Linked DNA regions of Homo sapiens. The protein of the gene in region 4 purifies or fractionates together with the protein of the main gene of each other region. This does not show direct contact. Each region holds a gene or a part of one and is shown on either strand. Other genes may lie near its edges.

What was found.
Region 1: the proteins of CEBPG (region 4) and KIF5A purify together in Homo sapiens (affinity purification with mass spectrometry; one large-scale study listed by BioGRID and IntAct). This does not show direct contact.
Region 2: the proteins of CEBPG (region 4) and PPP1R7 fractionate together in Homo sapiens (co-fractionation; one large-scale study listed by BioGRID). This does not show direct contact.
Region 3: the proteins of CEBPG (region 4) and NUCB2 purify together in Homo sapiens (affinity purification with mass spectrometry; one large-scale study listed by BioGRID and IntAct). This does not show direct contact.

Annotation. Positions count from the first base shown.
Region 1 is NC_000012.12:57,583,756-57,590,359, forward strand, and holds the end of KIF5A (kinesin heavy chain isoform 5A), read left to right. Parts: intron 1-462; 3' UTR 463-2,878; downstream 2,879-6,604. UniProt on the Homo sapiens protein: Microtubule-dependent motor required for slow axonal transport of neurofilament proteins (NFH, NFM and NFL). Can induce formation of neurite-like membrane protrusions in non-neuronal cells in a ZFYVE27-dependent manner.
Region 2 is NC_000002.12:241,169,036-241,176,978, forward strand, and holds part of PPP1R7 (protein phosphatase 1 regulatory subunit 7), read left to right. Parts: intron 1-745; coding exon 746-832; intron 833-7,943. UniProt on the Homo sapiens protein: Regulatory subunit of protein phosphatase 1.
Region 3 is NC_000011.10:17,292,073-17,300,015, forward strand, and holds part of NUCB2 (nucleobindin-2 isoform 1 preproprotein), read left to right. Parts: intron 1-3,251; coding exon 3,252-3,395; intron 3,396-4,031; coding exon 4,032-4,139; intron 4,140-7,943. UniProt on the Homo sapiens protein: Calcium-binding protein which may have a role in calcium homeostasis. Acts as a non-receptor guanine nucleotide exchange factor which binds to and activates guanine nucleotide-binding protein (G-protein) alpha subunit GNAI3.
Region 4 is NC_000019.10:33,379,948-33,387,629, reverse strand, and holds the end of CEBPG (CCAAT/enhancer-binding protein gamma), read right to left. Parts: 3' UTR 4,944-7,682; downstream 1-4,943. Other genes in the region: PEPD (xaa-Pro dipeptidase), read left to right, coding at 149-286. UniProt on the Homo sapiens protein: Transcription factor that binds to the promoter and the enhancer regions of target genes. Binds to the enhancer element PRE-I (positive regulatory element-I) of the IL-4 gene. Binds to the promoter and the enhancer of the immunoglobulin heavy chain.

The DNA.
Region 1 (6,604 bases), on a different chromosome or scaffold from region 4:
CCCTCCCATCTTGCTCAGTGGAGGTGGCAAAGCCCCTCTTTTTCCTCCTCTGTCCCCAGGTGCTCTCCTCTAGCAGCACAGGAACCTTCTTTGTTCTTGTGTGTCACTGGGTTTCTCACCAAGGTTGCTTTAGGGCCCAGAAGTGGCACAGAGAACATGGCCAGTCTCTTACTGGGCTGCATCTAAGCTGAGCCCTCTCCAGGGGTTTCCCAGAATAGTAAACCAGGCACACACAGGCAGAAAAGTCTGAGAAGCAGAGAAGTAGGAATGCAGAAGAGGAGTTGGGGAGACCTAGGGGTGGAGGTGCAAGCCTGGGTCACGGGGGGCGGTGGTAGGGGGGTCTGCTTGTTGGTATTAAAGGAACAGGACAGTAAACCAAAGTGTGTGCAGATGCCACCTGTTCCTGTTCTGTGACTGAGCTACAAGCTGGGCCCTCACACCCTCTTTCTCTTTCTTTCCCAGTTTCTAAGAGGGACTGAGGCCTCTTCTCAGCATGCTGCAAACCTGTGGTCTCTGATACTAACTCCCTCCCCAACCCCTGTTGTTGGACTGTACTATGTTTGATGTCTTCTCTTACTTACTCTGTATCTCTTTGTACTCTGTATCTATATATCAAAAGCTGCTGCTATGTCTCTCTTCTGTCTTATTCTCAAGTATCTACTGATGTATTTAGCAATTTCAAAGCATAGTCTACCTTCCTTATTTGGGGCAATAGGGAGGAGGGTGAATGTTTCTTCTTTCTCATCTACTCGTCTCACACTGAGTGGTGTTAGTCACTGAGTAGAGGTCACAGAGATGACAAAAGGAAAAATGGGAGCTAGAGGGTTGTGACCCTTCATACACACACGCACGCACGCACACAAACATGCACACACGCATGCACACACACAAAGCCTTAAGCAGAAGAATGTCTTAGCATCATGAGACAGAGAAATAGACTCTTCCTCCCTCCTCTTTCACATATAGCACAGGGGAAGGTAAAATGGAAGGGCTGCTAATTGAGACATATAATTTTCTTCATACACCCCTCACCTTAATCAAAGGATTCAGGTGTTACTTCTGCCCTACAAAGTCTGCCTTTTGCCTCCCTCTTCCTGTTTTCCCCTGGACTGAGAAATGGGTTGCTCAAGGGACCATTTCCCTTTTTCTTCAAGCTCCTTTTGATATTCCCTGCCCCAGAGCTCATGACCAGAACCCAGAGCTGATTTAAAATATTTTGAAAAATGGAGGAGGCAGACTGCTCCCAGCAGCCTGTCAATGGCTGCTCATCTGTCCATGGAGATGGTTACAGGCAGGTGTAGTCAAAATGATTGATTCCTTGGGTTTGGGGGTGAATAGGCTGGGAAATTTCTGAGCCTTTTTTTTTTGTCACAGTGCCCTCAAGTTGAAGTGATGAGCTGGATTTCTTTCTTGTTCCATACTGGGCGGCATGCTCCTCCCATCTCCACCCCTTGGTTTGGGGGCTTCCAGCTCATTGGCAAAATCTCTCTAGTTGCCTTCCTTTCAAGCTGGAGCCTGACTTTTCCCCAATGTACATTTTTTTTTTCTCCACAAAGAGTTCCTTCTCTAATGTCCCCATCTGGTATTAAGTGCACTTTAAAGAAAGGGGCAGGGTGGATTTTCAAGAGGTGGGAAGCTCTAAGGCTTGACCCTGAGGGGTCTTCTCCCAGCCATTCTCAGCCCATATGCAGCACCCTCCATACTGAAGAGGACTGTTGTTTTAGTTTCAGACGGTCCTTTCCTTCCACATGGTGCTAAGGTGGTTTTCTAGGTAACTGCAGGGATGGAGGTCACTAGCCATTCCAAACCAGGAGAGAAAGTCTGGTGTCCTGATATCCAGTCTTTTCTAGGAGGAAGACCAAGATTCTCCAGCGGCAGGGCAGCCTATCACCCAACTTCTAAGTCAGGAAAGGAAGCTGAGTGGGAATGCCAGCTGGTAAGCGCAGGCTGCACTGGCCCATGACTCCTTCAAGGAAAAGAGGCCCTGCTCCCTTTACCTGCTGAGCTCCTTTTAGCAGTTAGGGAGAACTGCAGGGGGAAAAATACCAGTGGAGTGTGGAATAAATCCAAAGCAGTGATTTTTAAATGTTTTTCAAAAACAAATCTTACATAGAACCCCAATATAAAAAATAAAGTAATGCAGACCTGGGCAGTTTGCATTTTTTTTTTTTTTTTTTTTTGGTGGAAGAAGTCTCAGCGTCTCTTAGGACTGACTGTTCAAAGGCTCCTCAGCAAATGAGCCCTTGAACAGTCCTAAGAGACCCTGAGGATTCTGTGGAGTAGTTTGAAAACCATTGTTCTGAGGAAGGGGGTCCAATCTGGCTCCTCTGCACTAAAGCTGCAACTCATGGAAAAGAGGGCAACGGTGGGGTAGACAAGCCATGCTGTCTCCAGACCCACTAGGGTGGAAGGAAGGTTCCTGTGGGCCTGTGGACTTAGGCTAATATTTGCTGTCAGCAGGGCACTTAAGAATCCAGGGGGTTTTATGTAATGTTGCCACCACATGGTTCTTTTAAAAACACATAAGGAAATGTGAGGGTGTAGCGCAGATGAGGAGAGAGATGACACAGAGGGAGCAGCCTTCTCTTTAGCAAGATGTAAGGGAAATATAATTCACTTACATAAAAAAGAAACAACACACACGCAAACCCTTCACCAGAAGCTTCACACTACATCCTCCTCCTCCTCCTGCTCCCCACCTTCACCGCATCCCTTTCAGAGCCAGGGTCACTGCAAGGGGCACCTGGCCTGCCCACTCACATCTGCCAAAATGTTGCATGCCAGCGTGGAAGACAAACCAAACTGCGCAACCCCCTGTGTGTATTTACTTGGTGTACATAGATAACTTTAAAATAAAATAAATTCAATGATAACTCTATGTTGTTGTAAATATTCTTTATCCCTTCCCAATCTCACTGCCTTCTTTGGATGAAATGGAACTTGATAGAATATATCCTTCCAGATGTTTTTCTATAGATTTACATAAGGCTTGATTTTTTTCCTACTTGACAATATATCCTGGAGATCTTTGTATGTCAATATATATCAATTGACCTCATTAAAATATAATTTTTCACATATTTATCCTACAGTTCATTCAACCAGTCTACGACTGGTGGATATCTATACTGTTTGTAATTTTTACCAAAAGCACTATCTTGTTCTTTCATTTTTGACCCAGAGCAGTCTCAGTCCTGGCATCAATTCCTTCCCACTCCAGTGTTTCACCATCTCTCCACAGCCAACAGATCAATATTCCTGTCCCAGGATCATCCACTACAATCACCCTTCCAACCCCCATTTTAAAGCATACTCCACCTCTCTTCTCTGCTCATATCTCAAAGCTTCTCAGATGGAGAAAACTGCACACCCAAAAAACTGGGGCAAGTAAAACTGAAGAGCCTACAAACCTGCCCGGACTTTCGGTGCTTCTCACTTTCCTCTCCTATCTCCCAGAGCAAGGGTCTACACCCTTTCCACCCTCCTCTGTCAGGCAACAACTTTGTCATCTAAGGCACTTGAGCCTGAAATTCTTTTATCTTGCCCCCTGCCCACATGCACCTACACAATTACCTATCTGTGTCTGCACTTATCCTTTCCTTCTCCCTTCTGACCAGTGATAAATCTCCTTTCTCTGGGCTAAAGTGAATCCCTTCTAGATATTTCATTCTTGAGATACTGATATAGAATCTCAATATACAAATATATAACATATCTAAAACTGATAAACTGATGGAGACTTGAGGAGTTTGCATCTTTTTTTTTTTTTTAAAACAGAGTCTCGCTCTGTTGCCCAGGCTGGAGTGCAGCGGCACAATCTCGGCTCACAGCAACCTCCGCCTCTCAGGTTCAAGCAATTCTCCTGCTTCAGCCTCCTGAGTATCTGGGACTACATGTGCACACCACCATGCCCGGCTAATTTTTGCATTTTTAATGGAGATGGGTTTTCACCATGTTGGCCAGGCTTGTCTCAAACTCCTGGCCTCAAGTGATCCGCCCGCCTCGGTGCATCTTCTTTATTAATGCCTGTCTCAGTGGTCTCATCTCCTTGTAAGGTCCTTCCCATAAGAGTCCCTCCCTTTACTGTGTGTTTCTCTAACTGTGTGTTTCTCTATCTTACTTGTTTTCTTAAAGTCAGATATCCAGAAACCATCCCAAGCTTCCCATCCCCACTTCCTCACCCCCTATTCATTCCTTAGCCCACCTTGATCTGCCTCTTGTTCTGCTCAAAACTGCTTTTCCAAATGGCATTAGTTACCAAATACAGTGGACATTTCTTCTGGACAACAGTCCTTGTTTTGCTTCACCTCTCCATGACATATACTTCTTCACTCCTTCCTTCTTGAAACTCAACTCCCCTTGGCTTTTGTGACCCTGCTGTCTTGGCTCCCTGTACTTCCCTGGCCACCCTTCCGAGTCTTCCTCCCCAGGCCTCTTAAATGCTGCTCTATCCCAGGGCTCAGCCCTTGGTTCCTTCCTTGCTCTTTCTAAGACATGTCATCCATGCCTGCAGATTCCACAATTCTTCAATCCGTATCCCCAGTCCAGAACATTCTGCTCAGCTGCGGGAGCATGTGTCCAGCTGACCTCAGATGCCTCAAACATGTTCCAAACCGAACTCACCTTCCTCTGAATCTGCTCCTTTTCATGTCACCATCATCTCTCTGATATCATCATCATCATTAGCCAGAAGCCTTAGACTCACTCTCAATGCCTCCCTTTTCCTTCAATCCCCACATTCATATGAATTTTCCAAGTTGACATCAAACTGCATCTTTAGATGCCACCCTCTTCTTTCAAACACAACAGCCACTGCTTTAGTTCATTATCTCTCCCTGAACTTTTGCAATACTCAAGTCATCCTCCAGGAACATGCCTGAGTGATCCTTTTTTTTTTTTTTTTGAGATGGAGTCTTGCTCTGTTGCCCACGCTGGAGTGCAGTGGCAGGATCTCGGCTCACTGCAACCTTGGCACCCCCCCTCCCCCAGTTCAAGCGATTCTCCTGCCTCAGCCTCCTGAGTAGCTGGGATTACAGGTGTGCGCCACCACGCCCGGCTAAATTTTGTATTTTTAGTTGAGATGGGGTTTCACCATGTTGGTCAAGCTGGTCTCGAACTCCTTGTAGGGTCCAGACCTACTGGGCTTAGCGGGTGTTCTCCCTGTGTGCGGAGACGAGAGATTGTAAGAAATAAAGACACAAGACAAAGAGATAAAGAGAAAACAGCTAGGCCTGGGGACCACTGCCACCAAGACGCGGAGACCGATAGTGGCCCCTAATGGCTAGGCGCACTGGTATTTATTGAATACAAGACAAGGGGCAGGGTAAGGAGGGGTGAGTTGTCCAAGTGATTGATAAGGTCAAGCAAATCACGTGATCATGGGATAGGGGTCCCTTCCCTTTTAGGTAGCCAAAGCAGAGAGGGAAGGCAGCATACGTCAGCATTTTCTTCTATGCACTTATAAGAAAGATCAAAGACTAAGATTTTCACTATTTCTTCTACCGCTATCTACTAAGAACTTCAAAGAGGAACCAGGAGTACAGGAGGAACATGAAAGTGGACAAGGAGCGTGACCACTGAAGCACAGCACCAAAGGGAGGGGTTTAGGCCTCTGGATGACTGCAGGCAGGCCTAGATAATATCCAGCCTCCCACAAGAAGCTGGTGGAGCAGAGTGTTCCCTGACTCCTCCACGGAAAGGGAGACTCCCTTTCGCGGTCCGCTAAGCAACAGGTGCCTTCCCAGGCACTGGTGTTACCGCTTGACCAGGGAGCCCTCAAATGGCCCTTATGCGGGCGTGACAGAGGGCTCACTTCTTGCCTTCTAGGTCACTTCTCACAATGTCCCTTCAGCACCTGACCCTATACCTGCCGGTTATTCCTAGGTTATATTAGTAATGCCACAAAGAGTAATATTAAAAGCTAATGATTTATAATGTTTATACTGATGATTGATAATTGTCCATGATCATCTCTATATCTAATTTGTATTGTAACTACTCTTTATTCTAACTATTTTCTTTATTATACTGCAACAGTTTGTGCCTTCAGTCTCTTGCCTTGGCACCTGGGTAATCCTTTGCCCACAACTCCTGACCTCAGGTGATCCTCCCGACTCGGCCCCGCAAAGTGCTGGGATTATAGGCGTGAGCTACCGCATCTGGCTTTTTTTTTTTTTTTTTTTTTTTGAGACAGAGTCTTGCTCTGTCGCCCAGGCTGGAGTGCAATGGCATGATCTGGGCTCACTGCAACCTCTGCCTCCTGGGTTCAAGCGATTCTCCTGCCTCAGCCTCTCAAGTAGCTGGGACTACAGGCACCTGCCAACATGCCCGGCTTTTTTTTTTTTTTTTTTGAGATGGAGTCTCACTCTGTCACCCAGGCTGGAGTGCAGTGGCGTGATCTCTGCTTGGCGTGATCTCTGCTTGGCGTGATCTCGGCTCACTGCTACCTCCGCCTCCTGGGTTCAAGTGATTCTCCTGCCTCAGCCTCCTGAGTAGCTGGGATTACAGGCTCACGCCACCACGCCCGGCTAATGCCCGGCTAATTTTTGTATTTTTGTAGAGACGAGGTTTCACCATGTTGGCCAGGCTGGTCTTGAACTCCCAA
Region 2 (7,943 bases), on a different chromosome or scaffold from region 4:
ATTATTACTCAGGCTTAGCTAACATGTATTGGAAAGTGAGTAACTGATGTGCATTTTCAGAGTAGAAGATCCTAAAAACACACTCTTGTCTCCCAGTGGGGGCACACACCCTGCAGCAGGTGCTCAGCAGGCCCAGCACCCAGTCCTCAGCATGGGTCCCTTCTCTGCACTTATGCTCCCGGGACCCTTTTCCCAGACAAGAGTGTAGGCCTGGGGTCTGAGAGTCCTGCCTCTCCCACTGCTACTGTGCGCCTGGGCAGATTCTTAGCCCCACTGAGCCCCAAGTTCCTCATCCCTAAATGAAGAGAGGAACTTTGTTTTGAAGATTACTTGGTCGTACATTTCCTCGTGATGAGCACTAAGTAAATGTTTCTACAATTGTCAGCCTTTCTTCAGAGCGTCAGGGGGTTACTCGGTTCTTCCTGGGACCATCAGTCTCACTAGGTCTGTCTCAATGGACAGGGATCTGGGAGGACTGGGCTTGGAGTCTGACACAGTCTCAAATTCCAGCGATCAGGAGAGCTCAGGGAGATAGCTGGGCAGGCTCTGATGGAAACACTGTCCCAGGGAGGGCTGCAGGAAGCAAGCAGGTCTCGTCACCCTCCATAGCATGCCCTTACCCTGTGAGGGCAGAGAGGGCAGTGCACCTGCAGCCCTAAGGTCAGCACTTGACACTGCCTGCGTGGTCATGCAAATCACTGTTGATCAGAGGTAATCCAGGAAACATTTTATTTCCTTCTTTTAGAACAAACTCACGATGTTGGACATTGCATCAAATAGAATCAAAAAGATTGAAAATATCAGCCATCTAACAGAGCTGCAAGAGTTCTGGGTAAGTTTAATACACGCTGGGGTTGATGACACTTTGACTAAACTGGTCTCACTGATTAAAATGTCTTATGAATGAATACAAGAATCTCCTGTAAGCCTTCATGCTGAGTGACTCCGCACATCATGAGATTTGGGGTGGGCGCTCTTGTAGACTTGTATTGGGTGTTGTCTGTGCTCCTCAGCGTGAGCCACAGATCAGCAGCATTGACATAGCTTGTTAGAAATGCAAAATCTTGGGCCCCACCATAGCCCAGATGAAAACTGAGTCAAAATCTTTGCTTTACAAGACTCCGGGTGATTGCAGTACACACAAAGGTTGGAGAAGCCCTGATCTAGGTATGGGTAGAACCTACAATTGTCATTTGACCAAATGGTTTGCAAACCTCAGCAGAGAGGCAGACGCATTCCCTACAGATATATTCCAGCACAACAGAAGGAAATGTTGGATGGGTTTCTGCAGTTAGTCATCTTGGAATTTGCCTTGTATTTGTCTTGTCACAGGTATGGTTTCAGGAGTAGTGTTGTGGAGTCAGCAGGAAGAGAAACAGAATATAAGAAGTTTTTGCAGTTCCTCTAAAGGGGTTGGGAAATGATCCCCGAGTGGAAGTCTTCAGTGCTAGGATTCCCTTAGAGAAATCTCCTAAGGTTTATTGCCTTTCCGCTAGCACGTGGCCCTGCAGAGACTGCGGCACAGGTGTCACCCTGTGATGCTGGGAATGTAGTAGTGTCCTCAGATACATTCAGTCTAATCCAGGATTCATGCTGAGTGTAAGGCATCATTCTTCCTTGTCTCTCCTCTAGCCGTGCTGCTGACCCTGCTTATGTCCTGTGCTTTCTCCTTTCCCCACTTTAAAAGGTCATCCAAGTTTCCCTAGAACACAGGTGGCCTGCTGCAAATGTTCCTTGCCCCTTATTAGTGGCACTGGGTCTTGAGTAGTGTCATGATGGGATACCAGAGCATGTCTGGGAAGATCAGAGCCAGAATTTGGCAGGTGATAAAGATGTACCAGGCCAGGGGGAGCCTCAATGAGTCCAGGTGGGTCTATGTGCAGCCCACCCTTGAAGGAAGGTGTGGCTGGTGGTAGGCTGGTTGAATTAGTGCATAGGGAGTTGGCAAAGAAGCCAGGGAACAACACAAAGAAACCAAACAACAGGAATAAGGAGTCCAGAGACAGAGGACCAGGTGATAGGGAAAGGGCACCTGGCAAAAAATTAGGGAGCAGGTTTGGGAAACGAGCTGATACTGAAGCAATGTTCCTGAAGCGTAACGATTCCTTCTGCATGCCCTGCCTAGGAACAGAGCATGGGGCACAGAGTGCTGAGACCACAGGCAGGGGCCAACCTGGGTACCACAGCTAGCAGGGAGGCAGGCAGGCTGGTGATCAATCACTAGGGGCCAGGTAGTGCCTGACCCTGTAACACAGAAGAATCCTGTTCCTTAGGCCACCAAAGATAGTAAAAAATAGCCAGAATTTGCACAGCGCTTTATGGTGTCCATACCTCTCTCCATTCTGATCCAATTATCACAGCAACCATGTGGATAAGGTCATATTACCCCATTTTACAGGTAAAGAATTGCATTCCAGGAAGGAAAGCTGCAAACCAGGAATTCTCAAACTCAGTTCCATGCTCATATCACATTTGAGAGGCACATCATTCATCTCTAAGGCAGAAATAGAAAACCAGTCTTAACAAGTTTCTGATAACCCACATACTATGTTTGTTGATTTTTCTGCCTATTTGTTCCAATTACTGAGAGGAGAATGTTGAAACCTTCCAACTATAATTGTCAATGGATCCATTTCTCCTTTCAGTTCCATCAGTTTTTGTTTCTTGTATTTTGAAAGTCTGTTATCAGGTGCATACATATTTAGAATTGAGGAATTCTTGATGAATTGATCCATTTATCATATGAAATGTTCTTCTTTCTTGCTTATCCTCTTTATCCTTGTCCTGGAAGGGTATCTTGTCTGTTATTAACACAGCCCCTTCATCTGTCTTATGATTAGCGCTCTCATGGAATCTTTCTCCATCCATTTCCTCTTAACCCATGCCTTTATAATTAAAATGTGTTTTTCATAAAAAGTATGTAACTAGATCTTGCTTTCTTCTCCAGTCTGAGAATCTCTGCCTTTTAAGTGGTGTCTTTAGACTGCTTACATTTAATATAATTACATTTAATTACATTTTGTGTAATGGTTGAGTTTAAGTCTATCATCTTAGTATTTGTTTTTTATTTGTCTCATCTATTCTTTGTTTACTCTTTCCTACCTACTTTTTGGAGTGACTTTTTTTTTTTTGCAGTCTATTTTAACTCTATTATTGGCTTATTTGCTATACCTCTGTATTAGTGTTTTCTTGTTGATTGTTTGGAGGGAGGGTTGTTTTAGCGATTAGAATTTAAAAATACATTTTTAATTTTCACCATCTATATATTTTACATTTAAATATCTTACGATCCCCATGATACCTTATCTTTTAAAGAAATTTAAAAATGGCCAGGCGCAGTGGCTCATGCCTGTAATCCTAGCACTTTGGGAGGCCAAGGCAGGTGGATCACCTGAGATCAGGAGTTTGAGACCAGCCTGGCCAACGTGGTGAAACCCTGTCTCTACTAAAAATGCAAAACTTAGCTGGGCATGGTGGCACATGCTGTAGTCCAAGCTACTCAGGAGGCTAAGGCACGACAATCACTTGAACCTGGCAAGTGGAGATTGCAGTGGGCCAAGATCGTGCCACTGCACTCCAGCCTGGGCAAAAAAGTGAAACTCCGTCTCAAAAAAAAAAAAAAAGAAATTTAAAAACAAGAAAACTCACTTATTTTACCTTTTCTGGCATTGTTTATTCTTTCGTGTGGATCTGAGTTTCCACTTGGTATTTCCCTTCCACCTGAAGAATTCTATTGTTTTGTCGTGCATTCTGCAGTAAACCAATCCTTCACTTTGATTTGTTTGAAAAATCTATTTAATTTGCCTGCATTTTTGGAATTTAATATTATGGATACACAATTCTAGCTTGAGAGATTTTTTTTTCCTTTTTAAGTACATTAAATACTTTGTTCTTTCATCCTCTGGTTTGCATTATTTCTCCTTTATAAAATTTTTATTATTTTAAAAATATTTTTTAAAAATAAATAGAGATGGGGCCAGACACGGTGGCTCACACCTGTAATCCCAAGGTGGATCACTTCAGGTCAGGAGTTTGAGACCAACCTGACCAACATGGCGAAACCCCGTCTCAACTAAAAATTCAAAAATTAGCTGGGCGTGGTGGCACGTGCCTGTAGTCCCAGCTACTGGGGAGGCTGAGACAGGAGAATCGCTTGAATCCAGGAGGCAGAGGTTGCAGTGAGCCAAGATCATGCCACTGTAGTCCAACTTGGGCAACAGAGCAAGACTTTCTCAAAAAAAAAAAAAAAAAAAAAAAAGGACGGGATCTTGCCATGTTGCCCAGACTGGTCTCGAACTCCTGAGCTCAGACAGTCCTCCTGCCTCAGCCTCCCAAAGGGCTGGGAGTACAGGTGTGAGCCACCACACACGGCCCTGGTTTGCATTATTTCTAATAAGAAGCCAGCAGTCATTTTTATCTTTTTTCCTCTGGCTGCTTTTTAATGTTCTTTTTAATCATTGTTTCTTATTTTGTTTTGTTTTTTGCAACTTGAATATAGCGTGCCATGGTGTAGTTTATTTTCTGTGATGTGTCAGGGTTAACTGGGTCTGTGAATCTATGGTCTTCATCAAATGTGGAAAGCTTCTGGAGACTATTTTCTCTAAAACTGCTTCTGCCCTTGCTCCTCACCCCGGTTTCTCTCTGAAAACCCAGTTATGCATGTTCCCCTGGCACTAGCGAGGCCCCTGAGGCCATTGCCTCCACCCTGCTCCACCCCTTGGGCTTTCATCTTGCTGTGCTTGTTTGTATAATTTCTGTTGTTAAATCTTCAAGATCATGATCTTATCATCTGTAGTAGCCTATCTGCTGTTAAGCCCATGTCATGAATTTTTTATTTCAGATACTGTATTTTTCTCAACTCTAAAAGAACATTTGGCTTTATTTTTTTTTTTTTGGTAGATTATTTTTCTCTCTTCATTAGATTCATGTTTTCCTTTAAGTCCTTCCTTCTTCACGTCTTGTAATTTTTTATTAGATCCTGGGCTTTATGGTGTTCAATTGTTGAATGTCTGGAATTTATGTTGTTTTCCTTCAAAACATACTGAACTTTATCTGACAGGCAATTAAGTTACAGCTTGATCCTTTTGAGGCTTGTTTTTAAGCTTTATTAGAGTACATCTAAATAGTCTACTCCGTAAGATTAATCTAGCACTGTTTTGAAGCTGTGGCCCTCCTAGGATCTCTGGTGAATATCCTGTGTATTTAAGTTCTCTCCACTGTGGTTGACGGGAACACAAACATGGACCTGCTATGGGTGAGCTCTGGGCATTCTGCATCTTGGGGCTGCTTAGTAGTTCTTCGACCAGCCTTTAGCTTTTCACTCTGCCTAGCACAGCTTCATCTTCAGTCCAGGATTCCACAGGATACCATGTGGATTTCTGGAGGCTTTTTCCCTACATAGCTCACTCCTATCTATACATTCCAGCTCCCTTTGCCTCCCCAAACTACAATCACCATCTCAACTCTGTGTGGCCACCAGGCTCTGCTTGGGTTCCGCCTCCTTGTGGTCCTGAAAGTTCCTCCAGGCAGAAGGCCGGGATGATCACACCACCCACCTCATTTGTTTCCTGTCTCTCAAGAATCACTATCTGTGTTGCCTGTTGTCTGATGTATAAAAACAATTATTTCATATATTTTATCCTCTTTTTTTTTTTTTTGAGATAGAGTCTTGCTCTGTCGCCCAGGCTGGAGTGCAGTGGCGCGATCTCAGCTCACTGCAAGCTCCGCCTCCTGGGTTCACACCATTCTCCTGCCTCAGTCTCCTGAGTAGCTGGGACTACCGGTGCCCGCCACCACGCCTGGCTAATTTTTTTTGTATTTTAGTAGAGACAGGGTTTCACTGTGTTAGCCAGGACAGTCTCCATCTCCTGACCTCATGATCCGCCCGCCTTGGCCTCCCCAGGTGCTGGGATTACAGGTGTGAGCCACCGCGCCCGGCCTATTCTATCCTATTTTCTAGTAGCTTGTGACAAAGGCAGGAGCTCAGCACCAGCTATTCTGTCATGGCTTGAAACAGAAGTCCTACTTATTTATCTTACTTTTGTGTCTGTCTCCCCCACTGTATAATACAAACCTCATAAGGGCAGGGAAATTAGTGTTTGGTTTACTTTGTTTTCCCTCCCAATTTCTTTATTGTGGTAAAACATGCATAAAATAAAACTCACCATCTTAACCATGTGGAAGTGTACAGTGAGTGGTATTCAGCACATTCGTAATGGTGCACAGCCATCACCACCGTCCATCTCCAGGACTCTTTTCAACTTATAAAACTGGAACTCTGTACCCATTAAACAATAACTCCCTATTTTCCCCTTCCCAGACCTTGACAATGACCCTTCTACTTTCTGTCTCTATGAATTTAACTACAGACCTCATATCACTGGAATCATGCAGTATTTATTTTTGTGACTGGCTTACTTCACTCAGCATATTGACCTGAAGATTCACCCATTCTGTAAGCATGTGTCAGAATTGCCTTTCTTTTTAGGGCCAAATAATATTCCGCAGTATGGATATTGTTTTGTTCACTCTTATCTCACCAGCATCTGGAATAGTGCCTGATACACTTTTTTCTTTTGAGACAGAGTCTTGTTCTGTCACCCAGGCTAGAGTGCAGTAGCATGATCATGGCTCACTGAAGCCTTGGCCTCCTGAGTTCAAGTGATCCTCCCACCTCAGCCTCCCAAGTAGCTGGGACTGCAGGTGTGCACCAATGACCTGGCTACATTTGTGGGTTTTTTGTTTTGTTTCGTTTTTTGTTTTTTTGAGATGGAGTTTTGCTCTTGTCACCCAGGCTGGAGTGCAATGGCACAATCTCACTGCAGCCTCCGCTTTCCAGGTTCAAACGATTCTCCTGCCTCAGCCTCTCAGTAGCTGGGATTACAGGTGAATGCCACCACGCCTGGCTAATTTTTGCATTTTTAGCAGAGACGGGGTTTCACCATGTTGGCCAGGATGGTCTCAAACTCCTGACCTCAGGTAATCCGCCCACCTCGGCTTCCCAAAGTGCTGGGATTACAGGAGTGAGCCACTATGTCTGGACCATTTTAAAATCTTTTGTAGAGACAAGGTCTCACTGTGGTGTCCAGGCTGGTCTCAAACTCCTGAACTCAAGCAATCCTCCTGCCTGGGCCTCCCAAAGTGCTGGGATTACAGGTGTGAGCCACCATGCCCAGTCAGTGCCTGAAACATATTTGAATGAGCAGAAGGAACATAGAAAAGGCTGGCCAACTGGGTGGAGGCCAGCTACAGATAACATTGGAAAATATGTTATCCACATGTGTCAGATGCAGGGCTAACATCCTTACATTAAAAACAGCTCACACCCAGGTACCACTTGAAAACTAGGGTGTTCACAGAGCAAGAAGTAACAGTTGCTTGTAAATACATAAAGCATTTCCTATCTCATTAATTTTTTTTTCTTTCTTTTTTTTTTTTTTGAGATGGAGCTTTGCTCCTGTCGTCCAGGCTAGAGTGTAGTGGCACGATCTCGGCTCACTGCAACCTCCACCTCCCGGGTTCAAGTGATTCTCCTGCCTCAGCCTCCCAAGTAGTTGGGATTACAGGTGGCTGCCACCACCATGCCTGGCTAATTTTTGTATTTTTAGTAGAGACGGGGTTTTGCCATGTTGGCCAGGCTGGTCTTGAACTCCTGGCCTCCAGTGATCTGCCTGCCTCGGCTTCCCAAAGTGTTGGGATTACAGGCGTGAGCCACTGTGCCTGGCCATATCTCATTAACTTTTAAAATCTACTAAAACAGTGAGATACAGTGTTATCTGTCAGGTTGGTGAAGACTCATAGAATGCAGCTGCAACCAGCCTGTGATGGCAGCAGGCACTCTCGTGACTACGGAGATAGCTGTGTTTCATACAAGTTTTCTGTAGGGCATTTAGAGCCTTAAAAATACCACATGCAGCTGGGCACGGTGGCTCACACCTGTCATC
Region 3 (7,943 bases), on a different chromosome or scaffold from region 4:
ATCTGTACTAAAAAGAATAAATAGATAATAGAATTTAAGTACTTAAGTAATACTAAGTTCAAGTTAAATTCTCTTATTTAAAATTTTTTTTATTTTTATAAATGAGGGAACTGAAGTGGGAAAAGTTAATTGGCTAACCTGTGATCATATAGCAAGTAAGTGGTGCAGCTGTAACTAGAATATAGATCTAAATTTAGTTCTGCCTTACTGCTTGGTGTAAAACCCACTTTCTATTTCTCCTTTTTTCCCACTTTCTATTTTTTAAAGATCCAAGTTTACCTTTGAGATGAGCATTCTCTTTCTGTCTCATTGTAGGTGAGGTTGGTAAATAATAGAGCAAAGGGAGGCAGTATGTTCTAGGGCAGTGGTTTTCAAATGTTGGCATGTATCAGAATCACCTATAGGGCTTATTAAAACAGATTGTGAGGCCCCCTACACCCAGAGTCTCTGATTTAGAAAATATGGAGTAGGCCTTGAGAATTCGCATTTCTAACAAATTCCCAGGTGATGCCAGTGCTGCTGGCCCAGGGACCATACTTTTGAGAACCACTCCTGAAAAGCCAACAAAGGCTTTGGAGTCAGTCACTCCCAGGTCTACACTCTAGCTGTATGACTGACTGCTGTGTGAACTAGAAGTGATATGTCTCAGTTTCTTGTACTTTGAAATGGGGATAATAATATTGACTTCACAGAGTCATTGTAAGAGTTGATGCGTTAATATATTTTAAAAGTTTAGCATACTGCTTGGTACATAGTAAACATTCAATAGATGGTTTCTGTTGTTATTTATAATAAGCATGGGGATCAATTAAATCTTTAGGAACCATAAATTCAGTTAGTGTTTTAAAGCAGTTTCTCAGAAACTTTTTGTGACTTTGTCACTTCAAGATGTTGTCAGCGGCTAGGTGCAGTGGCTCATGCCTGTAATTTCAGCACTTTGGGAGGCTGAGCTGGGTGGATCATCTGAGGTCAGGAGTTCGAGACCAGCCTGGCCAACATGGTGAAACCCCAGCTCTACCAAAAATACAAAAATTAGCTGGGCGTGGTGGTGGGTACCTGTAGTCCCAGCTACTCGGGAGGCTGAGGCAGGAGAATCGCTTGAACCCGGGAGGCAGAGGTTGCAGTGAGCCGAGATCGGGCCATTGCACTCTAGCCTGGGCGATAGAGCAAGACTCTGTCTCAAAAAAAAAAAAAAAAAAAGATGTTGTCAGGTGTTGTTAGGACATACACACACACACTCATGTATACAAACACATTCTCTTGACTTTCCTTCTTATTTATGGTAGTCTTGGCAGGAGAGGAAGAGAGCAGCAGAAGTGACAAAAACACGTGGAAGATATGGAAAAATTAGAACCCTCATTTATAGGTGGTGAGAATGTAAAATGATATAGCTGCTTTAGAAAACAGTTTGGCAGTTCCTCAAAAAGTTAAACTTAGAGTTACCAAACTGACTCAGCAATTCTACTCCTAGTTATATAACCAAAAGAATTGAAAACCTGTTAACAAAGTAACTTAAACACAAATGTTTACTGAAGTATTATTCAAAACTGCCTGAAAGAAACAATCCAAATGTCCATCAGTTCATGAATGGATAAACAAATATGGCATATGTATACAATGGACTATCTATTCAGCTATAAAAAAGAAATAAAGTCCTGATACTTGTTACAATGTTGTTGGACCTGGAAACATACTGCTAAGTGATAAAAGGCAGACACAAAAGGCTACATATTGTATAATTCCATTTATATGAAATGCCCAGAATAGGCAAATCTATACAGATAGAAAGTAGATTAGTGGTTGCCAGGGGATGGGAAAAAAGGGTAACAGTGAGTGACTGATAATGGGTATGGGGTTTCTTTTTGAGATGATGAAAATGTTTTAAAATTAGATAGTAGAGATGGTTGCACAGCCTTGTGAATATTCTAGAAAACACTGAATAGTATAATTTAAAACATTTTATGCCTTATGAGTTATATCTCAAAAAACCCAAAATGCACACCTATGTATGTGTGGACAAGAAGCATGAATGAATAATAAACCTTTTTTGTTATTAAAAGTAATTGTGGGGAAGAGGAGGTGATTCATAGTGAGAAGACATTCTGTGAAGTATACTACCCTATTAGAGATTCTAGTATCCTAGAGATGAGTGGATCTCAGGTTTTAGTATACATAGGAACCCCCTGGAACCCCCTGTTTGTTAAAACAGGTTCCTGGCCCCCACCCCAGAGGTCTTGGGTACAGCCTGAGAATTTGCATTTCTGATCTGCTTTCAGATGATCTTGTAAGATTTTGTAAGATTGAGAACTAAACTTTGGGTAGCATCTTTATAGATTAGACATATGCTGTACTTAAATGGGTGAATTTTATGACGTGAAGTATATCTCAATAAAGATGCTAAAAAATTGGCATAAAGATAGTAAAATGTAAGTTTTAGTGGTTTGTTAATGGCAAGACAATGCTCTGTAAGGGAATTGGTTTAATTATTAATTTCTTCATTTGTAAAATGTGTCACTCTCCTGTGTATGTACCACCTAGGGTTGTGGTGAAAATGGGGTTATGTGTTCTTTTCCAAATGGTGTTCTGTGGGTAAAACGTGTTGCCTTAAAAAAAAAAAAAAAAAAAAAAAGCCATGGCTAGATTGAAGCTTTTGTAATTAGCCAAATGTTTTCTTATACTATAAAAACAATATAGGCCGGGCACAGTGGCTCACGCCTGTAATCTTTGCACTTTGGGAGGCCAAGGCGGGCGGATCACCTGAGGTCAGGAGTTCGAGACCAGCCTGACCAAAAGAGAGAAACCCCCGTCTCTACTAAAAATACAAAATTAGCCAGGTGTGATGGCACATGCCTGTAATCCGAGCTGCTTGGGAGGCTGAGGCAGGAGAATCGCTTGAACCCAGGAGGCAGAGGTTGGGGTGAGCAGTGATCGTACCATTGCACTCCAGCCTGGGCAACAAGAGTGAAACTCTGTCTCAAACAAACAAACAAACAAACAAAAACAGTTTAAAATATTGTATTCTGTCTTTTTAATTTTGGCTACAAAAACATTTCTCCCTTGATTTTCTTTAGTGATCTATTTTAAGCATTATTTTTGACAAGTTTTAATCTATTCTTTCCTTTCCTATAATTTTTTTTTTGTTTTATTAAACCTCTTGAGATTAAATATATGATTAATGTGACATTCGGAATGCATGTATATAGAGTTAAAACATTATTCATGACTTTACCATAATTACTCCTTTATTTCAGATGAGGTGGAGGACCATCCTGCTACAGTATTGCTTTCTCTTGATTACATGTTTACTTACTGCTCTTGAAGCTGTGCCTATTGACATAGACAAGACAAAAGTACAAAATATTCACCCTGTGGAAAGTGCGAAGATAGAACCACCAGTAAGTGAAATGAAGTGAAATGGGAGGAATTATAACTAAATGAAATGAATTATAATTGTAACTAAATGAGGTGGAATGAGGTGAAACTATAACTAAATGAAATGAGAGGAATTATAACAAAAATATTGCTAATATTTATTACTTATAAAATTGTACACTTGGGAACTATTTCTGAAATAGCAGTGAAAAGAGTATTGGCCAAGCATATGCTGTTTACCATTACACAATATTTATTTAATATAGTTAGTATATTAGATAGAAGAATTAATCGTAATACATTTCCAACACAGACCTGACTAGCCAAGAAAACACTGTATTATATTCAAAGCAGAGGCAGATAACAATGGGGAGAAACCAAAGTGGTAAAATCTTCATTGTCTGAACTATATAGAAAATCTACTGGACTAGAGAGTGTCGTAAAAAAGAAAAATCTACCTTTAAGTAACAATAAAAGATGATATTGGTTCTGATATAAAACTATTTATTTCAGAAATATAGCTTTTCACTTTGTTGAAACTATCAAAGTAAATATGTCTTAATGCCATTTTGCTAGAAATTGTTTCACAGGATTGACCTCTTTAGATTCAAACAAGGAAAAACCTGCAGAAGCATTACTGTTGGTTTCTTAATTTGAAGGATACTGGACTTTATTATGATGAATATCTCAAGCAAGTGATTGATGTGCTGGAAACAGATAAACACTTCAGAGAAAAGCTCCAGAAAGCAGACATAGAGGAAATAAAGGTAAATGCAATTCAATAATATATACATATATGTATCTTAATTTAAAATTTTTTTAGAGATGAGGTCTCACCATATAACCCAGGTTGGCCTTGAGCTCCTGGGCTCTAGTGATCCTCCCACCTCAGTCTCTCCAGTAGTTGGGACTACAGGTGCGTGCCACCATGCTTGGCTTAAATATTTAACAAACATTTGCACGTGCCAGGCACTGAGCTAAGTACCAGAAATACAAAGATGAGATTTATTCCCAGCCCTTAAGGAACCCTCAAGGGAAAATCATATCCAGAAATAGATTATAGGATGGATTATATGATGAGTATTTAATCTAGAAATACAGAAGGCAGACACATAATCTAATATGAAGCAGTGGGGCGAGGTGGGAAGTTATTCTTCCTAATAGAGATTATGCCAGAGCTTAAAGATGTAGTGAGAAAAGGAGAGGTACTGGGAGGCATCCTAGACAAAGGTGCAATGGTACAGAGGCAAGAAGTATATGGGAAACTGGAAGCAGTAACTGTGGCTAGACCCCAGAATGGGAAATGGAGGCCTGAGTGGCCAAAAGATGAGGTTTGGAAAGAATCACAGTCTCGTTGACAGAGGGCCTGTATATCATGTTAAGGGGTTTGGGTCATTATCTGAGGACAGTAGGAAGTTATTCAAAAGTTTGGAATAGGTGAGGTCCTGGTGTTTTAATCAGGTCCAGATTAACAGAAGAGATAATGGGCTATGTATTATATCAATCAGAGAGGTTTAACCATTTGACTCTGTCCTGAGAACCCTATTTGACATAATTCCAGCCATAGTCAGCTCTTCAGTACTCATAATAAGAAAGGGGGTTGTAAAGATCTGACATGAGAGATTCTTGTAAAGTCTTTCCTTAAAAGGAAATGAATCAGTTTAGCTGGGTTTATCTTAGACTCAGTGAGTAAAAAAAAATCCAGTTAATTTTAAAATTCCAATAATGTCTCCTAAGATAATTTTGTTTGCTTATGTTACCTTTATTTATTTAAGTTTTACTTTCTTAAAAAATTACGTTGCTTTTTTTCTAGAATCAGAATAAGAGAACTGTGTTTGAAAGACTCATTCTGGGTCAAACAAACCTTTTATTTTAGTTTCTGTTCTTGGTGTGAACTTCTTTGAAAGACTGACTCCCGTTAGGTTGTGGTGTCTGTCAGCGCTCAGGTGTGGCATTTAGTTCGCAGCTCTCCTCTTGGAAGTTGTGAACTTTTCTGGGGAAAAGGTAATAGTGTTATGCTAATAATTCCCCGGAATTGTCTTTGAGGATAATCCTACTCTTCTTCTGAAGGATTAATTCGATCTGTGGAACAAGTTTCCTATGGTGAATATATCTGATGTAGAACTCTTAATGTCTTGTATCAGGAGTAAGAACGTTATTTGGGGTGACATAGAAAATGTGGATCATGGGAGATACTACATAGAGATATTCAGGCAAAAGAAGAAAATAAGCTTCCTGGATTGGTGCAGGGAATACTTTTATAACTATCTTCCTTTCACATTCAATTCCTGTTTCTATGAAGGGTTAGGGGGAACCAAAATGAAGTTAAACAGTTACACAATAAAAAAGAAATGAGGGTCCGTGTGTGGTGGCTCACGCCTGTAATCTCAGCACTTTGGGAGGCTGAGGCAGGTGGATCATGAGGTCAGGAGTTCAAGACTAGCCTGGCCAAGATGGTGAAACCCTGTCTCTACTAAAAATACAAAAATTAGCCGGGTGTGGTGGCAGGCACCTGTAATCCCAGCCACTCGGGAGGCTGAGGCAGGAGAATTGCTTGAACCTGGGCGGCAGAGGTTGCAGTGAGCCGAGATTGTTCCACTGCACTTCAGCCTGGGCAACAGAGTGAGACTTCGTCTCAAAAAAAAAAAAAAAAAAAAAGGGGGGCCGGGGCAGTAGTTCACACGTGTAACTTTGGGAGACTAAAGCAAGAGGATGGCTTCTAGCCAGTAGTTTGAGACCAGCCTGAGCAACATAGCGAGACCCTGTCACTACAAAAAATTAAAATTTAAAATTAATTTAATTAAAAATTATCCTTCAAATTAAAAAAAAAATCATCTGAGGCCAGGCACAGTGGCTCACATTTGTAATCCCAGCAGTTTGAGAAGCCAAGGCGGGAGGATCACTTGATCCCAGGAATTCAAGAACAGCCTAGGCAACATAGTGAAACCCCTATCTCTACCAAAAATAGAAAAAATTAGCTAGATGTGGTGGTGTGTGCCTGTAGTCCCAGCTGCTCAGAAAGCTGAGGTGGGAGGATCACTCGAGCCCAGGAGTTTGAGGTTGCAGTGAGCCATGATTATATGACTGTACTCTAGCCCGCATGACACAGAGCGAGACCTCATCTCTTAAAAAAGAAAAAAAAATGAGTAAAACTAGACAATAAAACGCAAACCAATAGAATCATCACAAATAGCCAAGCAAAGACTTCTGTTTCATAAAAAACTGACAAAAAAAAAAGTTAGAATTTTCTCTTTCCTTTTTTTTTTTGTTTTGGGACAAGGTCTCACTCTGTCACCCAGGCTGGAGTACAGTGATGCAATCTTGGCTCACTGCTACCTCTGCCTCCCAGGGTCAAGTGATCCTCCCACCTCAGCCTCCCAAGTAGCTGGGATTACAGGTGTGGGCCACCTTGTCTGGCTAATTTTTGTATTTTTAGTAGAGATGGGGTTTTGCCATGTTGTCCAGGCTGGTCTCAAACTCCTGACCTCAAATGATCCCCCTGCCTTGGCCTCCCAAAGTGCTGGGATTATAGGCGTGAGCCACCATGCCCGGCCTCTCTTTCCTTTTCAGCTAAGCATTTTGAAAGGAGAATCATATTACATTTCTTCACTTCCCAAACATTCCCTAACTGGAAAGGTGATGGTACTGCCCTCACTGTTCCACTGAATATACCTTCATGGAGGGCATCCATGACTTCTTAATTGCCAAATCTAGTGAACATCCTAACATCTTTGATTCCTCATTCTACTGGGCTCCTTTATTTCTCTCAATAGTTTTTAGATTTCAGGGTTTGTTAAAACATATTGCTGTTTCCTACCTTCGGGGTGTCCAATTCAGTAACTCTAGAGCCTGCATTTCTGAAGTTCCCTGGTGATGCTGATGCTTCCAGTTGGGGACTACATTTTGACAACCATTGTTTTATCTAATAATAATGACTATTCTCTCCTTGAAATATACTGCTCTTTTTGATTCTGTAACAGTATATTCTCCTAGTTTTCCTACTAATTACTCATCTATGAAGAAAGTAATCAAAAGAGACCTAAAAAAGATAAATTTTGAAAAGCTTTTATATATGGAATGACTAATGCTTATAGAGGCCCACTGACTTTTAACTTAATTTAAATGTTCTTTTTTGCCCTAATGGTGCTGACCAACTTAACTTTTTAAAAAAATAACAAGCCAGGTGCGGTGGCTCACACCTGTAATCCCAGCACTTTGGGAGGCTGAGGTGGGTGGATTGCTTGAGCTCAGAAGTTCGAGACCAGCCTGGGCAACATGGCAAAACCCTGTCTCTACAAAAAATACAAAAATTAATCAGGCATGGTGGCATGCATCTGTAGTCCTAGCTACTCGGGAGGTTGAGGTGGGAGGACTGCTTGAGCCTGGGAGATTGAGGCTGCAGTGAGCCATGATCATGCTACTGCACTCCATCCTGGGTGACAGACTGGACCCTGTGTCATAAAATAAAATAAAATAAAATAAAAATAAATACTTTGTTGACATATAATTCATACACCATAAAATCTATCTTTTTAAAGGATAAAATTCAGTGTCTTTTTGTCTGTTTTTGT
Region 4 (7,682 bases):
CTCCATGAAGGAGCCCGGAGGCCACCCGTCTCCCAGGGAGTGTCAGCTGCTCCCATCCCATGGTGGGGTGGGCCTGGAATGGGCCCGGCCCTCTAGCCTGGCACATGAGGCTGCTCTATGATAATGTGTGTCTGTCGGCTTGACCCAGGTCCGCATCGAGGAGGACGTCGTGGTGACTGACAGCGGCATAGAGCTGCTGACCTGCGTGCCCCGCACTGTGGAAGAGATTGAAGCATGCATGGCAGGCTGTGACAAGGCCTTTACCCCCTTCTCTGGCCCCAAGTAGAGCCAGCCAGAAATCCCAGCGCACCTGGGGGCCTGGCCTTGCAACCTCTTTTCGTGATGGGCAGCCTGCTGGTCAGCACTCCAGTAGCGAGAGACGGCACCCAGAATCAGATCCCAGCTTCGGCATTTGATCAGACCAAACAGTGCTGTTTCCCGGGGAGGAAACACTTTTTTAATTACCCTTTTGCAGGCTCCCACCTTTAATCTGTTTTATACCTTGCTTATTAAATGAGCGACTTAAAATGATTGAAAATAATGCTGTTCTTTAGTAGCAACTAAAATGTGTCTTGCTGTCATTTATATTCCTTTTCCCAGGAAAGAAGCATTTCTGATACTTTCTGTCAAAAATCAATATGCAGAATGGCATTTGCAATAAAAGGTTTCCTAAAATGGTCCTTTGTGCGTGGCTTCCCCTTTATTCCTTTGCAGATGAGCATTTGGGACCCCGTGCACCCTGAAAAGATGGCTCACCTGGTGTCAGTATCAAGTCAGTTCCAGGAAGATGGTGCTGGCAGCACAGGCCCTCTAACGGCTGCTTCTGCCTCAGACTGGCCTGGCGGGACAAGGGCAGAGTCCTCCCCGAGGAGCCTGCTTTGAGCCCCTGGGACTCGGGGCTCTGGTGTCACCCTGTCACTTGCTGCAAGGTTTCCCAAGCCTAACAGGCATCAGAACCACTGGGGCATTTGGTAAGAGATTCCTGGGACCCCCACAGACCATCTGACCCAACGTCTAGGGGCAATGGCCCAGGAATTGTGTATTTCACAAGCGCCCGCCAGATGCTCCTGACAGACAAGTGTGAGAAGTACTCCTAGGCAAGGTGGTTTTAGCTTGTCAGTACCAGCGCAGCCCGAGGTTTGAGGTGGGGCAAGCAACGCTGCAGGAAGATCCTAGGCACTCAGGTCAGACTGGCCAAGTCACCCCGCGCCATGCCTTTGCGCAAGTTAAAGGGCGGACTGATTTAACACAAGTCTTTCTGATACGGTCACTGCCTCCAAACTAGATTTCTGAAGGTGGTAGAATCATGTAGCGCTTGAGCTGCAGATATTTAAAACCTGAGACTTGCAGGGATCTCTTGTCCTTGATTTCTTTTTCATGTGGGACACACTAGCCAAAGCCAGCATCTGTCGGAGACACTGCCAACGAAGGCAGCGCCACAGCCAATTTGCAGAGACCGCTTGTCCTCCCTAAGTGTAGTCCTTGAACAAATTCTACCAGGCAGGAAGCCAGCCAGGGCCCAGCCATGCCTGGTGAAGTATCTGTCCTTGCCTCTGCTTGTCCAGTTCTCCCAGGGTCCCGCAGAACAGCCCACCCCTGGAGCTGGTTTCTAGAATTCTGTACACCATTCCAGGTTTGCCTTCTCACAGAGCTCCCATCCAAGAGTTCCCAAGCCAAGGTGAAAGATGACAAGTGAGAAGGATGCCACAGATGAAACCATGAGGATGAGGGGGTGGAAAACTGTAGCTTAAGAGACGTTTTCAGAAGTCACCAAAGGCCAGCACAGTGGCTCACGCCTGTAATTCCAGCACTTTGATCACTTGAGGTCAGGAGTTTGAGACCTGCCTGGCCAACATGGCAAAACTTCATCTCTATTAAAAATGCCAAAATTAGCTGGGCGTAGTGGCACACACCTGTAATCCGAGCTACTCCGGAGGCTGAGGCAGGAGAATCTCTTGAACCCAGGAGGCAGAGGTTGCGGTGAGCCAAGATCATGCTACTGCACTCCACCCTGGGCAACAAAGCAAGACTGCCTTTTTAAAAAAAAAAAAGTCACCAAAGAGTTTAATACAAACTGATTTCTTCCTATGGTAATAACACAGAAGTGCTTATAAAGTGGTCACATTAAAATAAAAGCCAATTTCAGTTCCAAATCACCATTTATCTTATCTGCTTCTTAGATTTATAACATCCATTCTTTAAGGTTTTCTGCTGGTACAGATACATTCCCTAAGCTATCCATCTGTGACATTGAGCAGTAGCAATTATGTCTTTTTAGCCAGGCGCAGTGGCTCATGCCTTGGGAGGCCAAGGCTGAAGGATCGTCTGAGGCTGGGAGTTCAAGACCAGCCTGGGCCAACATAGGGAGATCCCGTCTCTTAAAAAAAGTAAAAATAAAAAACTAGCTGGGCGTGGTGGCACACGCCTATAGTCCCACCTACCCTGGAGGCTAAGGTGGGAGAATCGCTTGAGCCCAGTTCAAGGCTGCAGTGAACTATGATCGCACCACTGCGCTCCAGCCTGGGCAACAGAGCAAGACCCTGTCTCTTAAAAAAAAAAAAAAAAAAAAAAAAAAAGTATCTTCTGAGTGTAAGGAAAGTTGAAGAGTTCACCAAGCACTTCTCCACCCCTGTTCCCCTGTGACAGACACAGTCTGGTGTACAGGGCTTTAATTTCCACCACTTTCAGGATAAAACCACTCAAAGTCAGGATGAAGCTCAAAATGGACAGTTTAGTTCTGTTAATTGAGAAACAGAGCTGAGTGCACCATACATCTTTCTCCTTCCTTTCAGACATTCCATACCAAAGCTGCCCGTTCCACATAAACATCTCTGATTATCAAGAAGTGAACAAAAAGGAGCAAGGAGAAATCTCTTATTTCTATCTAAACACTTTTCAGAGGGTCACTAGGAACAGAGAGGTCACGTTTTTCCTGAGCCAGTAGGTCAAAGGGTGCTCTTTAAAAAAAAAATTTTTTTTTTAATAAATAGAGACAGGAGTTTGCTATGTTGGCCAAGTTGGTCTTGGAACTCCCGGCCTCAAGCAATCCTCCTGCCTTGGCCTCCCAAAGTGCTAGGATTACAGGCGTGAGTCTCCACCTGTCTCAAAGGGCATTCTTTGGAAGCACAGGTCTAGAGGGCCCCAGTAGCTACCTCCGCTACCCCCATGTTTGTACCTAACTCTGTCTCTTCTAACCTCTGCAGAAATTCATGTAGCTTCAGAAATCCATTAGAGACCCCGCCAGAAAGCTGTATAGTGTGCTACAACCCTTCTGAAACTCAGTGTCTAGGTATTCATTCAATACATAATTGAGCATCTACTCTGCCAGTGCAGGATACAAACATGACCCCTCCTTCCAGAGCCTCTAGTCTGCTGCGAGGCCTTCACCTCAAACCAGCATGAACAAATATATTGTCTCAAACACTGCAAAGTGCCATGAAGCAAGCAACAGGATAGGCTTAGCGTAGACAGCCAGGGGGCTGAGACAGAGAGGGAACTTGTTAGTGAAAAGCCAGAGGAGATGCTTCATTCCAGACAGAAGGAGCTGTCCCAGGAAGGGCAGAAAAGAGCTTGGAAAAGCCCTAGAGCCGAAGTAGAGTGACACAGGAGGATGGAGGGAAATTAAGTTGATGAGGGGAAACGCCACGACACAAGGAGACTGAGTCTCACCCCGGGTGCAATGGGGAGCAACAGATGGTTCTGGAGAGCAGGCAGTGACGCTGCCATCCAGGAACACCAACGAGGAGCCAGTCACCAAGTCCAGGCAAGCGAAGAGGATGGCTCTGCATGGGGGTCGGGGTGGGTGAAGCAGACAGGTACCGGAGCTCCATTTAGAAGGTGGAAGTGAAAGGTGGCGATGTGGAAGCGCATCTGGTTTTAACAGCTTCTTTACAGGGAGGGACAAGAGGTGGCGTTTGGGCTGCAAAAAGTGTAACGCGTGACTGTTTCACTGACAATCCTATTCCTTTTCCAAGTCCAATTCTATAACCCCCATTTCTCTAGATGCCTCTATACAGCTTTCAGGCCTAGAGCTCTGTGAGGAGTGGGATACTGCAGTAAAAGAATACCTAGGCAATGGTGTTCTCTGAATGTATGTAAAACTGTAAAACGCTTATGAACTCTCTGGCTAGGCACAGGCAGTGGATGAGCTGGTCTAAAAGTGCTTTTGTCAGAAAAAGACCGGCCCCCCTCACAAAGATGTCATCACTCGGTAAAATTCCCCAAGACACGTTATTGGATTCTAAATCACAACTAATTCAAAAAAGTGAAACGGGCCACACTTCCCATAGAAATAATTCCTGACCTCCACTTTTCATTAAGATGCAGCAAGCAGAGATTTATTTCCCAAGACATGAAAATAATTGAGGCATCAGAGAAGAAAAGCATTTAAATGGCATTCCCTTGAAATATTCAATTCACATCAGCTCCCTGGACTCAACAGTTTATGAAATCAGCAAATTCATCTCTACAGACACTCTATGACGTAAATGAGGACAGTGTCCACATGTACTACAAAACTCCAGATGGGGAAAGGCCTTACTTTAAATTCTTGACTATCTATCTCGAAACATAAGAATTTCTTCCCTCTCTAAATGGAAACCATGTTCTGAGACACTAGGTGATTAAGCGGGAACCCATTTATTCAGTTATTCCTTTCCCTATTCTGGTATAATTTTTAGTTTAGACCAAGTGACTAAAAATATAACTAAAGATGTATCCCATGTTCAGAGAAAACTATTTTCCTATCCACTAAGGGCAAACGGGGAGATCTAGACTTGGACACAAATACCTCTGCCTGTCTCCCCACTTTCCCCACCCCTACCCCCAGCCGTCCAGTGTGGGAACAGGAAAGACAGCAAGGCACCTGCCTGGGCTTCCCAGCTGTTTAACATCTGGACTGCTTTTTGGTATCTAATATAAAGAAAGCCACGATGAAAGACAAGTCATTGTTCCAAAGTTGTTTTTTATTTTATATTTGTTGAAAGAAATAAAATTATATTTAAAAAAAATAGAGAAATCTCACAAACTGATGAAAGCCAGGAACAAAAAGAACAAGTTAGTACTTTTTCCTGAGAGGCAGATCTAACAGCTGCAGAATGGACTTCTTCCTTCCCAGCTTTTGTGAAACAAAACAATTCTCCTAAGGCATCAGAAAGCACTGAGTGCAAAATGGGTTGTTCAGGTACAAGGTCTCAAGCCCTCTAATGGGGACTGGGAAACGTGAAAAGCTGCTACAATTTCCTCTCCTTTAATACCAAATGTTAAACTGTCTATACTTCTACTTTTTATGTAAATTTGAGAATTTCACACTCATGACCTGCATTTCGGACCTGGTCGTGTTTGATTAAAATCTTACTACTTAGTGATCTGCACTGGCATCCCAACAACTGATTGCAGGGGCCAGCAGCAGGAAGAGCTGCTCTGATCTCACCATCCGCAGCCAAAACCAGCCAAAGAGCACCCATCCCAGGAGACTCAGATGCAGCTAGAAATTTATGCTAAAGCCTAACTCCTAACTATGCTGGACCTGCCCACAAGGGCAGATCACATCCTAGTGGTTCACAGGTCACACACAGAACAAAAGTTACAAAAGTCACCTCACAATTCCCGAAGCTCTAAATTGATTCATTCCCCACACGTGGTTTCCCTAATTTTATACTGATAAATCTATCAAATTAAAAGCTTTCATTTCCAACCACTTCAATAAGATAGACAACACCATGCTTAACATTTTTGTTCTCTGCCTAATTGCTTGCTTCTGCTAAACTTTGCATTTCCATGGCTAATAGGAAAGCTTGAACCCATTTTTCCAAAAGTTCCAATCTTGTGTTCTGATTTGAAATACTGAGTACACACCCCTGATGCTTTCTCTAAAGTTTCTTTTTCAAGATACTTAAGTCAATTCATATAACTGGTATAAATTCCATGGGAGCATCGAATTCCCAAGAGATTTAAATGTCTGTAGCGCCTACCATAGGTGCTTGCTTATACATTCAAGTGACCTAATGCATCTCCAATTAAGTTAATTATGTAACACCAATCAGCTGCTAAGGAGCCAGTAGGATCCTGTGGGTGTGTCCTGGCTAGTTTTTCAAAACATCTCTCATCCTTCATGGGTAGATTCATACTCCAAGGTAAGCTGGTGTTGGACCCTAGAAACCCCTATCCTGTCTCCTGGCTCTATAGGGAGTTAACAGCCCTCCTGGGACAGCTTCTCCTGGGCTCCAGTTTTACATTCAGAAGGACCTCACGACTCTTAAGAATGGCTTTGCTGAGTTGCTGGACACCATGATGTCTTCTCCTGCCCAGAAACGGCACGGTCAGCAATCTTCCACCAACCGGAGGGTGCAACTTGAGTTTTATTCTGGCTACATCATCCCAAGTCCTAGTATGAAACAGCAATGTGGCCAAAAATGACCATGTTCAAATAAGATACCTGATAACACAAACTTTTAAATCAGTTATGACTCAGTCTCTCATCTCCAGCCCAGGCACACAAAAAATACACAAATTTGAGCTAGAACTGTGCTAAGAAAAAAAGAGAAAGAAAAGAAAGCAAAAGAGAGAAGAAAAAACGTTGACAAAGACAATCTAAACTACCAACACTGACGTAAGCCAGACTCTAGAGTCCCTACTTTAGCGACTGCCATTTTTTAGTCTCAACAAAAATGTCAATATCCTGAGTTTTATCAGCATTTTCTGAAATAATTTATGGGACACAAAAGCATATAAATGAATAAACAGAAGCAGTGGTACAAAGTCTGGAAAGCCCACTAACCAGAAAAAGAAATGTCACAACAACAATATCAAAAGATGTATTTAAGAGAAATAAATTAAAGGTTAAAACCTTACACTTTCAAGTTTTCTTAGACAATTATTTTGGGAGATGGCATGGAGTTGATACATTTCTCTAATAATCACTTGGTTAAGATCAAATACCAAAATGAGCCTTCAGAAGAAAATTTTGACTTTAAAAGTAACAGCCCCATGGCAGCTATTTTGAACACAAGAGAAACTACCTTCTGAATTAATATTCCAAACCCTCATCAGTAGCTTGTGTCATCAAACTGTTAAGATATTTTGTTTACTAACTTGGTTGTCAAAATTGTATCCAAAAAAACACTAGCATCTGCAGAAACTAAAATTTTGGTACACAAGTTTCTCTACACCACTGAGTTGGGTTTTTAGAATAAAACAATGCCAATCTAAGCCCAAAGGTATCTCAAAAACATAATTCCTATGCTTTAGTTTTATTTTTGTGTTTAATCTATTTGCTTCCTAAATGTTATTTGTATTTTTTAAGTCAATTGGCCACACACTACCTATAAGATGTGATGAAGTTTCTTTACTTAACCTGACATTGCTACTCAAAAACTTGTACTTTTGGGGGAAAACAGTACTAATTATGTTAAAACAAAGTTTATGCCATATATAAAATCACTCCAAATTACACACTCATTGCTTTCTATAGCTCTACGAATTTATAATACATAATTTAGAAGAAAATCACAAATAGATTACCATAGGTGGCATTCAACTTTTCTTAATCCAATTCAGCCTATCCATTAAAACCAAGAACCTTCTGCGCGGCCTGCCAGTTCCCCATTCCTTTTGTCAACTTAAAAAAGAAGCATTTCTTGGGAAGTCAGGATTTATTAAGAACATCGGGATCCCAGATATTT